4 separate regions of the Homo sapiens genome follow, and all the other regions are linked to region 1. The links come from fine-mapping of genetic effects on gene expression. A gene starts in region 1. Each other region holds a variant in brackets. All regions are shown on one strand. Distances are from middle to middle. Region 1 holds the start of HEBP1 (heme binding protein 1). Region 2 overlaps GPRC5D-AS1 (GPRC5D and HEBP1 antisense RNA 1). Region 3 has its middle 17 kb from the start of FAM234B. Region 4 has its middle 13 kb from the start of FAM234B.

Evidence for each region.
Region 2: its variant is fine-mapped to the expression of HEBP1 in whole blood (TOPMed, PIP above 0.99).
Region 3: its variant is fine-mapped to the expression of HEBP1 in whole blood (TOPMed, PIP 0.99).
Region 4: its variant is fine-mapped to the expression of HEBP1 in lymphoblastoid cells (TwinsUK, PIP 0.95).

The regions. Positions count from the first base shown.
Region 1 is chr12:12,998,859-13,001,545 of GRCh38, reverse strand. It overlaps HEBP1 (heme binding protein 1), which reads left to right and starts at 1,281. Exons shown (of 4, transcript NM_015987.5): 1 at 1,281-1,509. The coding sequence starts at 1,432. All of the region lies in intron 2 of GPRC5D-AS1 (GPRC5D and HEBP1 antisense RNA 1), which reads right to left. It also overlaps the pseudogene HTR7P1. RefSeq lists silencers at 187-336, 1,097-1,216, 1,267-1,416.
Region 2 is chr12:12,958,652-12,961,338 of GRCh38, reverse strand. The region is part of intron 1 of GPRC5D-AS1 (GPRC5D and HEBP1 antisense RNA 1); the gene reads right to left. Among named protein-coding and RNA genes, the nearest start is that of GPRC5D, 7.8 kb to the right of the region's middle. The variant C/T (reference allele first, on the strand shown) is at 1,657.
Region 3 is chr12:13,025,975-13,028,661 of GRCh38, reverse strand. No RefSeq gene overlaps it. Among named protein-coding and RNA genes, the nearest start is that of FAM234B, 17 kb to the left of the region's middle. The variant T/C (reference allele first, on the strand shown) is at 1,264.
Region 4 is chr12:13,030,093-13,032,779 of GRCh38, reverse strand. No RefSeq gene overlaps it. Among named protein-coding and RNA genes, the nearest start is that of FAM234B, 13 kb to the left of the region's middle. The variant G/A (reference allele first, on the strand shown) is at 1,664.

The DNA.
Region 1 (2,687 bases):
AGGCGCCCGTAGAGGTCCGGGTGGCCGCTGCTGTTAACATCCATCACTGCGCCGCCGTGTGGCGCTGCCCAAGAAGCCGCCCCACCCCCCTCCCCACCCCCGCGGCCGCCACAGGCTCCGGCTTTCGGCCCCGGGGCTTCAACTCGCCGGTTCCCCTCCGCCCGGCCCAGCTTGAGGCCTGCACCGGCCGCTGGGCAGCGCCAGGCTCGGCCTCGGGGCCCCGCCTGTCCCAGATCCCCGGCCGCTGCGTGAAACGCGAGAGCGCTGCCGAGCGGGGACTCCCTGAGGGAGGGACCTCGGACCCCGACGGACGCCCGGGACGCGCGGGCTCTCGGGCGCTCCGGCGGGGCTCGGCCCGCGGCTCCACAGCCCGCTGCACCCGCGCGGCTCGGAGCAATGGAGGATCAGGCAGCGGCAGAAGCTTCCGTTTCCTCCTTTTTAAATGGCTCCAAAATATTTCTTGTCGGTGGTGTGGAGTAGAGATTTATTGGTAAAATACTTGACAGAAAGCAGGCACTCAGCTGAGTAAATGGTGACAAAATTGGTGAGAAGATTTTTGAACAGGAGTGAACGAGAAAAGCCATGCTTAGAAAAGTCACCTGGAAACTGTGATTTAGAGGGATGGTAGGAAAGAGTGGCAGCAGGAAAGTGGTTTGGATGCTCTTTCAATGGTCTAGAAGAGGTCATGGGGCGGGGGTAGAGGGACAGCTACCAAGACAGGGAGCCTGGCCGCCGCTGTACCAGCGGGATCGAGCCTTCGGGTAGAGGACCGGAGAAGCGTGAGCAACCCGGGGCTCGGAGGTTGGAGCCCAGGCACCTGAGAGAGGACGTTCCCCACCACCGCTGCCTAAAGCCACTCCAGGCGAGAATCGCTTTCCAGGGCCCCAGCGGATAGGTTAGACTCAGAATAAGAGAAGGGGTCTGCGGAGGGGGACGGCCTGAGGCCCGCGGCCGGGTTCCCTCCCCAGACACCCGCGGAAAGCCCGAAAGGAGGCGGAACACGGCCCAGCGGCTCGCCACGGCGGGCCCATCCCTTGCTTAGCCGCCTCGCACCCTCGCCTCACCGCACTGCTGCACTGCTGCACTGCTGCCCTGCTGCCCGCCCTTCGCATCACTGACCCGCCCTCTCTCCGCCCCCTCGCCTCGCCGCCCCGCCCTCTCTCTCCGCCCCTTCACCTCGCCGTCCCGCCCCCTTGCCTCACCGCCGGGCTGAATTGCCGCCCCGCCCTCTAGCCACGCCCTCTGGCCCCTGCCTCTAGCCCCGCCTCTCGCCTCGCCGCCTCGCCGTCCCGCCGCCTTGCCGCCCTGCCACCCTGCCGCCCTGCCGCCCTGCCGCCCTGCCGCCCTGCCGCCGGTGGTCGCTGCCCGTGGTGCTCCGTCGCCCCCGCCACCTCACGTCCTCCCGTGCGTCGGGAGCGTCTCGGCTACAACATGTTGGGCATGATCAAGAACTCGCTGTTCGGAAGCGTAGAGACGTGGCCTTGGCAGGTCCTAAGCAAAGGGGACAAGGTAGGCCCGCAGGGCTGCCGAGGACCTGAAGGATTGCTGCCTCCCACCCCCACCCTCGTCGGGGCTGCAGCGGGTGCTGAGGGGCAGGTGGGGCAGGAATGTGCTATCGAAGGTGCGTTCTGGTGTCTGTCGCGAGTGCGGCTCTCCACCGCCCAGCATTTGGACTGGGAAGGAAAGGAGTGAGAGGTCCCCCTGCAGCCGGTGGTGAGAGGAGGGGGGTAAACAGGAGAGACTGATCCAAGGAGAGAATCCCAACTTGGGGAGTTGGGCACTGCCTGTTGAATGCATTCTTTCGTTTAAAATATTCCAAACATTCCGAACAGTTTGATTTGTTGAGAGACACTCGGTTGCAGAAATGAGTGTCGCAAGAAACTCCCAAGTACTAGAGAACTGCGGATAGTAGCCCCCTTTATCCGCGATTTCAGTTACCTGTGGTCAGCTCTTGTCCATAACTATTAAATGGAAAATTCCAGAAATACAGAAGTCCTAAGTTTTAAGTTTCCGGCCATTCTGCGTAGCAGGATGAAATCTTGATTCCTGGGACCGGAATGCCCCTTTGTCCAAGGTCAGCCTCCTATCTCTAGTAGCCGCCCTTAGTCACTTAGTAGCTAGCTTGGTGATCGGATCGACCGTGGCGGTATTGAAGTAACCCTTATTTTACTTAGTAATGGCCCCAAAGTGCAAGCTTAGCAATGCTGGCATATTGTTATAATTGCTGTTATTTTATTATTGTTGTTCATCTCTTACTGTGCCTAATTGATAAAGTTAAACTATATCATAGGTATGTATGTATAGGAAAAAACGTAGTAGATACAGGGTTCAGTTTTGTCCACCGTTTCAGGTATCCACTGGGGGGCTTGGAAGGTATCTACTATAGATAAGGGGGACTACTGTGTAAAAGAACAAGATCTGTGCAGAATAGATATAAATGCGCTACGCAGGGAGCACAGAGGCAGTCAATTCTGCCAGGGGGCTATGATGGGGACCTCAGTGGAGTGTCCTGAGCTGGGGCCTCAGGGATGTGTAGGAGTGCACACAACAGAGAAGAGCATGCACAAAGGCCCAGAGCTGTACCATTGCTTTTGGCCAGTTAGATCCTCTGGAGTTGGGTACCTAGAATACAGAATGAGTGAGAAGAGCATAATTGCTGTCTTCCCCCAAATTTATATCAGTGCTAA
Region 2 (2,687 bases), 40 kb after region 1:
ATTATGACCTTTATAAGGACAATTTTAAGACTTAGGAATGAACATCCCTTCATTGGAATGCTGGTGCCTCTGGGATTATTTGATCCTATAGGGATATGTGCCTTTGATTTTGACTAGGCTATTTTAAAACTCTGTAGAAATATAAGTCAACATATGGAAAACTGATAGCAATGTGAATAATTCTTGCATACAGACATAAACATAAATTCTGCTCAGTGGAGTTTCAATTGAAGAATTGGAACAAGAGGATTAATTTCCCAGATGGCTTTTCCATTCACGTGCCTGGTGCTTTGTCAAGGATAGCTAGCAGGCTGGGCTCAGCTGGTACTATTGACCAGAGAATCTATATGTGGTCCCTTATGTAGCTTGGGGTTTTCAGAACACAGCAGCTGTGTCCTAGGAAGAGCCTTTGGACCAAGTATTCCAAAAGATCAAAGCAGAAGCTGCAAGGCTAATTTTCACCTAGCCTTGGAATTCACGCATCCTCACTCCCACCACATTTTATTGGTTACAAGAGAGTCACTAAAGCCAGCCTAGATTCAAGTGGAGAGGAATTAGATAGACCCCACCTCTCGGTGGGAGGAATGTGTGATACTTACAGCCACCTTTTAAAATTGCTGCCTTTTAGATTCCTTAAATGTGTTTAACATTTTAAAATGTATCGTACAGCTGAGTGCAGTGGCTCGCACCTGTAATCCCAGCAATTTGGGAGGCCGAGGCGGAATGATTGCTTGATGCCAGGTGTTCAAGACCAGTCTGGCATAGTGAATTTCTGTCTTCACGAAAAATTTTTTAATTGTTTTTGTTTTTAAGACAGAGTCTTGCTCTGTCACCCAGGCTGGAGTGTAATGGCATGATCTTGGCTCGCTGCAACCTCTGACTCCTCCTGGGTTCAAGCAATTCTCGTGGCTCAGCCTCCTGAGCAGCTGGGATTACAGGTGTGCACCACCACACCCAGCTAATTTTTGTATTTTTAGTAGAGATGGTTTTGCCATGTTAGCCAGGCTGGTCTCGAATTCCTGGCCTCAAGAGATCCACCCACCTTGGCCTTCCAAAGCGCTGGGATTACAGGCATGAGCCACCACACCCAGTCTAAAATTTTTTTTTTGAGATGGAGTCTCGCTCTGTCCCAGGCTGGAGTGCAGTGGCGCGATCTTGGCTCCCAAGCAGCTGGGATTACAGGCACCTGCCACCACACCTGGCAAATTTTTGTATTTTTAGTAGAAATGGAGTTTCACCATGTTGGCCAGGCTGGTCTTGAACTCCTGACCTTGTGATCCATCAGCCTTGGCCTCCCAAAGTGCTGGGATTACAGGCATGAGCCACCATACCCAGCCAAAATTTTTTAATTAAAAAAAATATATTAGCTGAGCATGGTGGTGTGCACCTGTATTTCCAGTTATGCCTGAGCCCAGGAGTTTCAGGCTGCAGTGAGCTTTGATAGCAGCACTGAACTCCAGCCCAGGTGACAGAGCAAGACCCTTGTCTTAAAAAAAAAAAAAAAAAAAAAAAGGAAAATAATGCCCCCAAATCAGCTAAATGTGCACTTTTACTATCCAAATACCATGTTCAAAAATATTTGCCAGATGAGATAGTTTTTCAGTTTAACAAAATCTAAATCTTATTTTTGAGTATTTTTCCTCATGGTAACCAGGA[C/T]TTTGACTACGTGTGGTAAGTGGATATGTCAGCTCCAATATCTGAACAAAATATTTCTACAAGTTTTGCCCACTGGCATCTCGATTTCAATAAATCCATGAAGTTCAGTTAAATTTCTTTAGGTGCCAAAGCCTTATGTTGAATAAACCAGGGCTGTTAGTAGTTTTTTAACAATATTTATTAATTCCGCCAGATTTTCTGGTTGTATTTGTTGTCCACACTCATAATTCCTTTACATTTTTTTCAGTTTAAGTAATATTCAACGTATGGCAATTCCTCAAAGAACTAAAAACAGAACTACCATTGGACCCAGCAATCCCATTACTGGCTATATACCCAAAGGAATACAAATCATTCTACCGTAAAGACACATGCACACGAATGTTCATTGCAGCACTCTTCACAACAGCAAACACATGGAATCAACTTAAATGCACGTCCATGACAGATTAGATAAAGAAAATGTGGGACATATACACCATGGAAGACTATGCAGCTATCAAATGAGATGAGAATCATGCCTTTTGGCGGAACATAGATGGAGCTGGAGGCCATTATTCTTAGCAAATTAACACAGGAACAGAAAACCAAATACCACAGATTCTCACTTACAATGCGGAGCTCAATGATAAGAGCTTCTGAACACGAAGAAGGGAACAACAGGCACTGGGACCTACTTGAGGGGAGAGGGTGGGAGGTGGGAGAGGAGCAGAAAATATAACTACTGGGCACTGGGCTTCATACCTGGGTGGTGAAATAACATGTACAACAAACCCCCGTGACACGCGTTTACCTATGTAACAAACCTACACATGTACCCACAAACCTAAAATAAAAGTTAAAAATTTTTTTAAAAAATGTTCGATAAACAATATACTTTTCCAACGAGGAGATGATATCTAATCCAGTTGAGGCTAAAATAAAATTTAAGGCCGGGTATAGTGGCTCATGCCTGCAACCCCAGCACTTTGGGAGGCCAAGGCAGGTGGATCACCTGAGGTCAGGAGTTCGAGACCAGCCTGGCCAACATA
Region 3 (2,687 bases), 27 kb before region 1:
GTGAGCTATGATCACACTCCTGTACTCCACCCTGAGCGACTCCAGACTGAGCAAGACTCTGTCTCAAAACAAAAAAGAAATTCCCCTTCCCTTTGCGTTAAGTACATGAAGTTTTGTCATTTTACTGCAAAAGGTTTTCCTTTGAGGCTAATATTTACTTCTGCAATCAAGCCTTACATTCCCTAGAGAGGTATTTCTTTATGGAGTTAATTCCTCCTGCCTCTCACAAATGTTTTCTCTCTCACTGCATGGGCTTTAGGTCTTTAAAGACCTTAGATATGGACTCTAAAAGCTGAGGAAATTTCCATTTCCACTAGTAGAGGCTTAAAGACCAAGAATGGCAATTTTCATTATTTTTCTATAGGTATTTTGTCATGAAAGAAATGGCTATTTTTAGAGAAGTGAATGTACTGGGGGTTACTTCAACCTATCTCATCACAGAACTCACTTCATGTTTTTCTACATTGGTTGGCCTGAAAAACCTGAAGTATGTTCTTATTTCTAAGAATGAAGCTATTTTCCTCATTACAAGGCCAACCTTAAATAACAGTAAACATTTTAAAGAAAGGATTTTTGCATGAAGTTTTTCTGCCTGTCTCATATAATTGCTTTCAAATTCTCTTTTTAACCTTAATTTTAATCCTCCGTTTCTGTTCTCTTGTCAGATAAATTGTTGAATATATTTTCCTCCACTCCCCAGTCTTAAAGACCAGGCATTCAAGAGTTTATTTGCTTCTGTTATGAATGTATTCCTTTTTACACCTTAGCCTTACAGATCTGTGGATTTCTTCTCTCTTTTAGTGAATGTGCAAAAAATACAAACTGGCAACATAGAAAAGAAGAGATACAACTGGGACCAATGACCAGATACTACTTTTTCAGATTATTTTTATAATGTTTTAATTTAAAAAGGGATAAAAATATATGGTTCATTTTATTCTATTTTATTTTTATTTTATTATTTTATTTTATTTTATTTTTGAGACAGGGTCTTGCCCTGTGACCCAAGCTGGAGTGCAGTGGTACAATCTTGGCTCACTGCAACCTCCACCTCCCAGGCCCAAGCCTCCCACCTCTACCTCCAGGGTAGCTGGGACCACAGGCAGGTTTCTTTTAATTTTCTCTTTTTGTGTGTATTTTTCAATGAAATAAAATATAATTTATTAATATATGTGCAAAATGAATTTCAGCTATTTCAAATAATGACATAGATCTAAATGTACTAATAATATATAAACATACCAATCATAAGTTTCAGATATA[T/C]AGAGATGTAATTATCTCTCTACGTATATCTGAAATATGTATGCATTCAATATATGTGTGTATATGTAAAAATGTTAATTTGTGTTTTTAAAGTCTGGAAAGATAAATACTAAACTGTCAAGAGCCGTTATCTCTGGGAGGTATGCTGCCTTGCACCCATGAAGGGAAGGTTCTGCTATCACAGGGGAACTTTCACTTTTGACTCCTTTTTCATCTGTATTGGTAGATAATAAACATACTTCCTGTAAAAAATTGTTTAAAAGCCACCAGTACAAAAATAGAAAACAAAATACAGAGTATACTAAGGACATAGTCAATCAAGAGAAACTATATAAAAATGTAGATATTAATTTTCATCAGAAAACTTTTCTAAGATCTATTTAAGTTGTATTAACTTCCAATTATGTCATCTAGTTTAATTTTATAAACTACCTCTCCTGTTTATTTTAATGTTCATCGTATTTAACTTTGTAGGTGTTTATGCTTGACTTTATAATATTAAAACATTTTCTCTGCATAACTGTAGTGAATCATACAAGATTGAAGAGAAATAATCTGTGATGAACTTGGTATCTTTCCCCTTGTTTACCGTAGGCTGGGGAAATGTAGCTCTTGAGGAAATACTATACATGTTTACCCAAGGCAGAATTTCAGAAAGGTTTTAGAGTTAAAGCATGTCTTCACATGGAATACTTTTTGTTTCCTGGCAAGTAGTCAGTTCTTTATTTTCTTCCCCAGTATGCAGTTCCCAGCTTTGCTGAATCCCTATTTTCCCCAGTCTGAGTCTAATCAGAATCAACCTCCTTGGAATAGTTTCACAGGACATTTGAAAGAGATGATAAATCAGTTTCCCCATCTTTTTTCTCTTAAAAAAATATTCTTTCCCCTTGTTTAATTTTGAAAATCTAATAGAACTTTGAGTTCCTGCAAAGATGGAAAACTGGCATCGGTTACTGGCTTTCTTCCCCAGAATCAAACAAGGAGAAGCTCAGAAGGAAACATAGATTCCAGGAACTAATTACATCAACAGTAAGAAACCCTGGGAGAGGGAAGCTCTGCACCTGAAGGTTGGGGGGAAGAAGGGTTGACTGTAGCCCAGAAGAGAATACTGGCAGGGGACAAAGTTAGCGAGAACAAGATTGCATTTTCCTCTGCCCCTTTCCTACTCTGCTTGGAGACAATGATTGCCTACCTGTTCACCATGGAAATCAGTGAAACAGGAGTCCAGGGGCTCAAAACAGGCAACCCAAATCTCCTACATTTAGGAGTTAATAAAATCAGGGGAGAAATGACCAGCCTAGAGCGTTTACTCTTCCATTCCTTCACCAAACTCCCCGGGTATTAACTTCCAAATTATATGTCTAGCCTGGATCTCACCCTTGAATTCTAGACTAGGGTATCCAAAACTGCCTATTTGTAGTTCT
Region 4 (2,687 bases), 31 kb before region 1:
CTCCCGAGTCACTGGGATTACAGACACCTGCCACCACACCTGGCTAATTTTTGTATTTTTGTATTTTTAGTAGAGATGAGGTTTCACCACGTTGGCCTGGCTGGTCTCAAACTTCTGGCCTCAAGTGATCCACCCGCCTCGGCCTCCCGAAGTGCTGGGATTACAGGTGGGAGCCACCGCGCCCAGCCAGGAAAGGATGGTTCTAGGGAGAGATTAGAGATTAGATGAGGTCAGATATGGCCAGAGTAGGAACAGATTCTGTAGACTTGGTAGGGAAAATAAAGACTTTGGCTTTTAGTCTAGATTAAATAGAGAGACTTTGAAAGCCTTGAGGCACAGAAGTGTTTATTTGACTTAGATTTTAAAAGTGTTCCTTGAGATCACTTTGCTGTTCTGAGAACAGACTGTGGGGGTACTGGCAGTGATGAATCACTTTTGACTATTACAATGACCCAAGCCAGAACTGATGGTGGTTTAGACTAGGGTAGTTTCTTTGAGGGTGGGGGGAAGTGGTAGGATTCTTAACTTAATTTGAAGGTAGAGCCGGCAGGATTTGTTGAAGAACTGAATGTATGGCATGAGAGAAAAAGGTGTCAGGGACCGTAGTGAGTCTTTTGACCTAGCAACCAGAAGATTGGAGAAGGGGAAAACTGAGAGAGGAGTGGGATGGGAAGCAGACATCAGGGGTTGGTTTTGGATGTGTCAAATTCAACATCCAACTGGACATGCAAGTGGAAATGTTGACCAGGCAGTTGCATGTATGAGTCTTGGGAGTTCAGGGAGAAGTCCTAGGTGGAGATATAAATTTGGTAGTCATTTGGTAGATTCGATAGTAAATTTGGTAGCTAATGCACATAACCCATATTTAAAGTTGGGAAATGGAATAAGATCACAGAAAGCATGTGTGATGCAGGAGGGGAGGGGAGCGTGAACGCTGCAGCATTTCACCATTCACAGTTCAGGGAGAAGAGGAGGAACCAGCCAGAGAAAGCAGCAGGCATAGCCAGTACGGTCAGAGGATAACCAGGAGAGTTTGTTGTCCCTGAAACCAAGCAAAAAAAGTGTTTTTGGGAAAAGCATAGTCAATTATTTTAAATGCCACAGAGAGATCAAGGAAGAAAAGGCTAAAGAGTAACGTGCCTGCCTACAGAGAGCACACACTTTGTTCTACTCTGCTGTGGTTTAAGGGCCTGCAGTTGTCCTGCTGTGCTAGCCTGGGTACACCTCTCTAATTCAAAGAAAGAATTTGCAAGCCCCTTTTACAACAGATCTAAGCCATGTCATTCAGCGTAGCTTTCTTTCAATAGTGAAGCTGATATTTTATCTCCATCTGTCCATCTCTTCAGTCTATTCCCAGATCAATCAGAGCTATGCAGAGAAGATGGGTATTAATTTACTGAGTCCCCTGAACCTTCAGTAATCATAAGTATTCCTTTTATTTATCTCTGCTTAGTAGATGTGAAGTTTTGTTCTCTTATATAGTAGATTTTCCCAGTAGTATTATCTTATCTACTTCTTGCTCTACCTTAGAGATTCTCTCTAAGGCAACTTTCTTCTTCTCTAGTCAAGCTTTTAACATCTATTATGAGAGTCTTTGCAGATGTCCCTACGTAGGATTGGAGAGAGGCCCTAATCCATCCCTGTAGTGACTCTTTCTCCTTCT[G/A]GGAAGCAGATGGGATTAACAGACCATTACTAATTATTGTTCTTAAACAAGGCACTGCAAGATTTATAAACCTCTTCCCAAAAGCCAGGCTGCACATCTGACACAAAGAGGAAAACGTCGCCTTTTTTTTTTTGTTTAACAACTTCACCATGAGGAGTCCCTCTTTGCTGAGAAATTGTGCTTTGTATTTTTTCCTGTTTCTAAGAGGACAGGCATACACTTGTCCTTCGGTGAACCAAATGAAGTAGAGGATAAGATGTGATATCTCTGTAAGCCCACAGGATCTGCTTTGAACAAAGTAATATATTTGAAGTGAAAAGCAATCCTTCTTGAAATAGTCACGAGCTCGTGCCTGCAGACACTTAATTGCAAGGGGTTGGCAACCTGTCTTTCATCCATGTCCTGATGAACAAAGACACACCCCATGTGGGCCAAAGACCACCGGAAACTTCAAAAAGTCCTCTTCAGGCAGAGGACAGGAGCCACGAGGGTCATACCTGGTACTGTATGATGAGGATAAAGGTGATAAGAAATTCTCTAATGGCCTCTGTCCCTTCGTGTCTGAAATTTCTATCTCAAGATCAAAAGAACCAAGGTACAGCCTAGGTAAGAAAGGGCTCTTGTCCTAATTTTGGAAGAGCCTAAAAATGAAACCCAGGAGAATTTCTTAGAGAGATGATATTGCCTGGAGTTACCTTTCCATGAAATTAGACATTTCATTTTCATTCTTTCTTTTACCCTGGAGTTAAAGACTTGTTTGGTTTTTTTTGGGTCTTTGTTTTCCCTTGTCAATACCTTAAAGATTTTTAAGTAGGATTCTTAGAGAGATTCACGTGAAGCTATTTTCTTATTACCATCACAAATACTTTATTTTCATCCTACCCTCCATCACCCTCTGCCTCAAAAATCTCAGATTTTATTCTTTTATTCAGGAGATTGTGCATAAAGTTACTTATTTCAATGAAAAAAAATATTTATTTCTGTATTTCTTTTTACGTCTTGGCCTGAAAATCATGAAACTCTG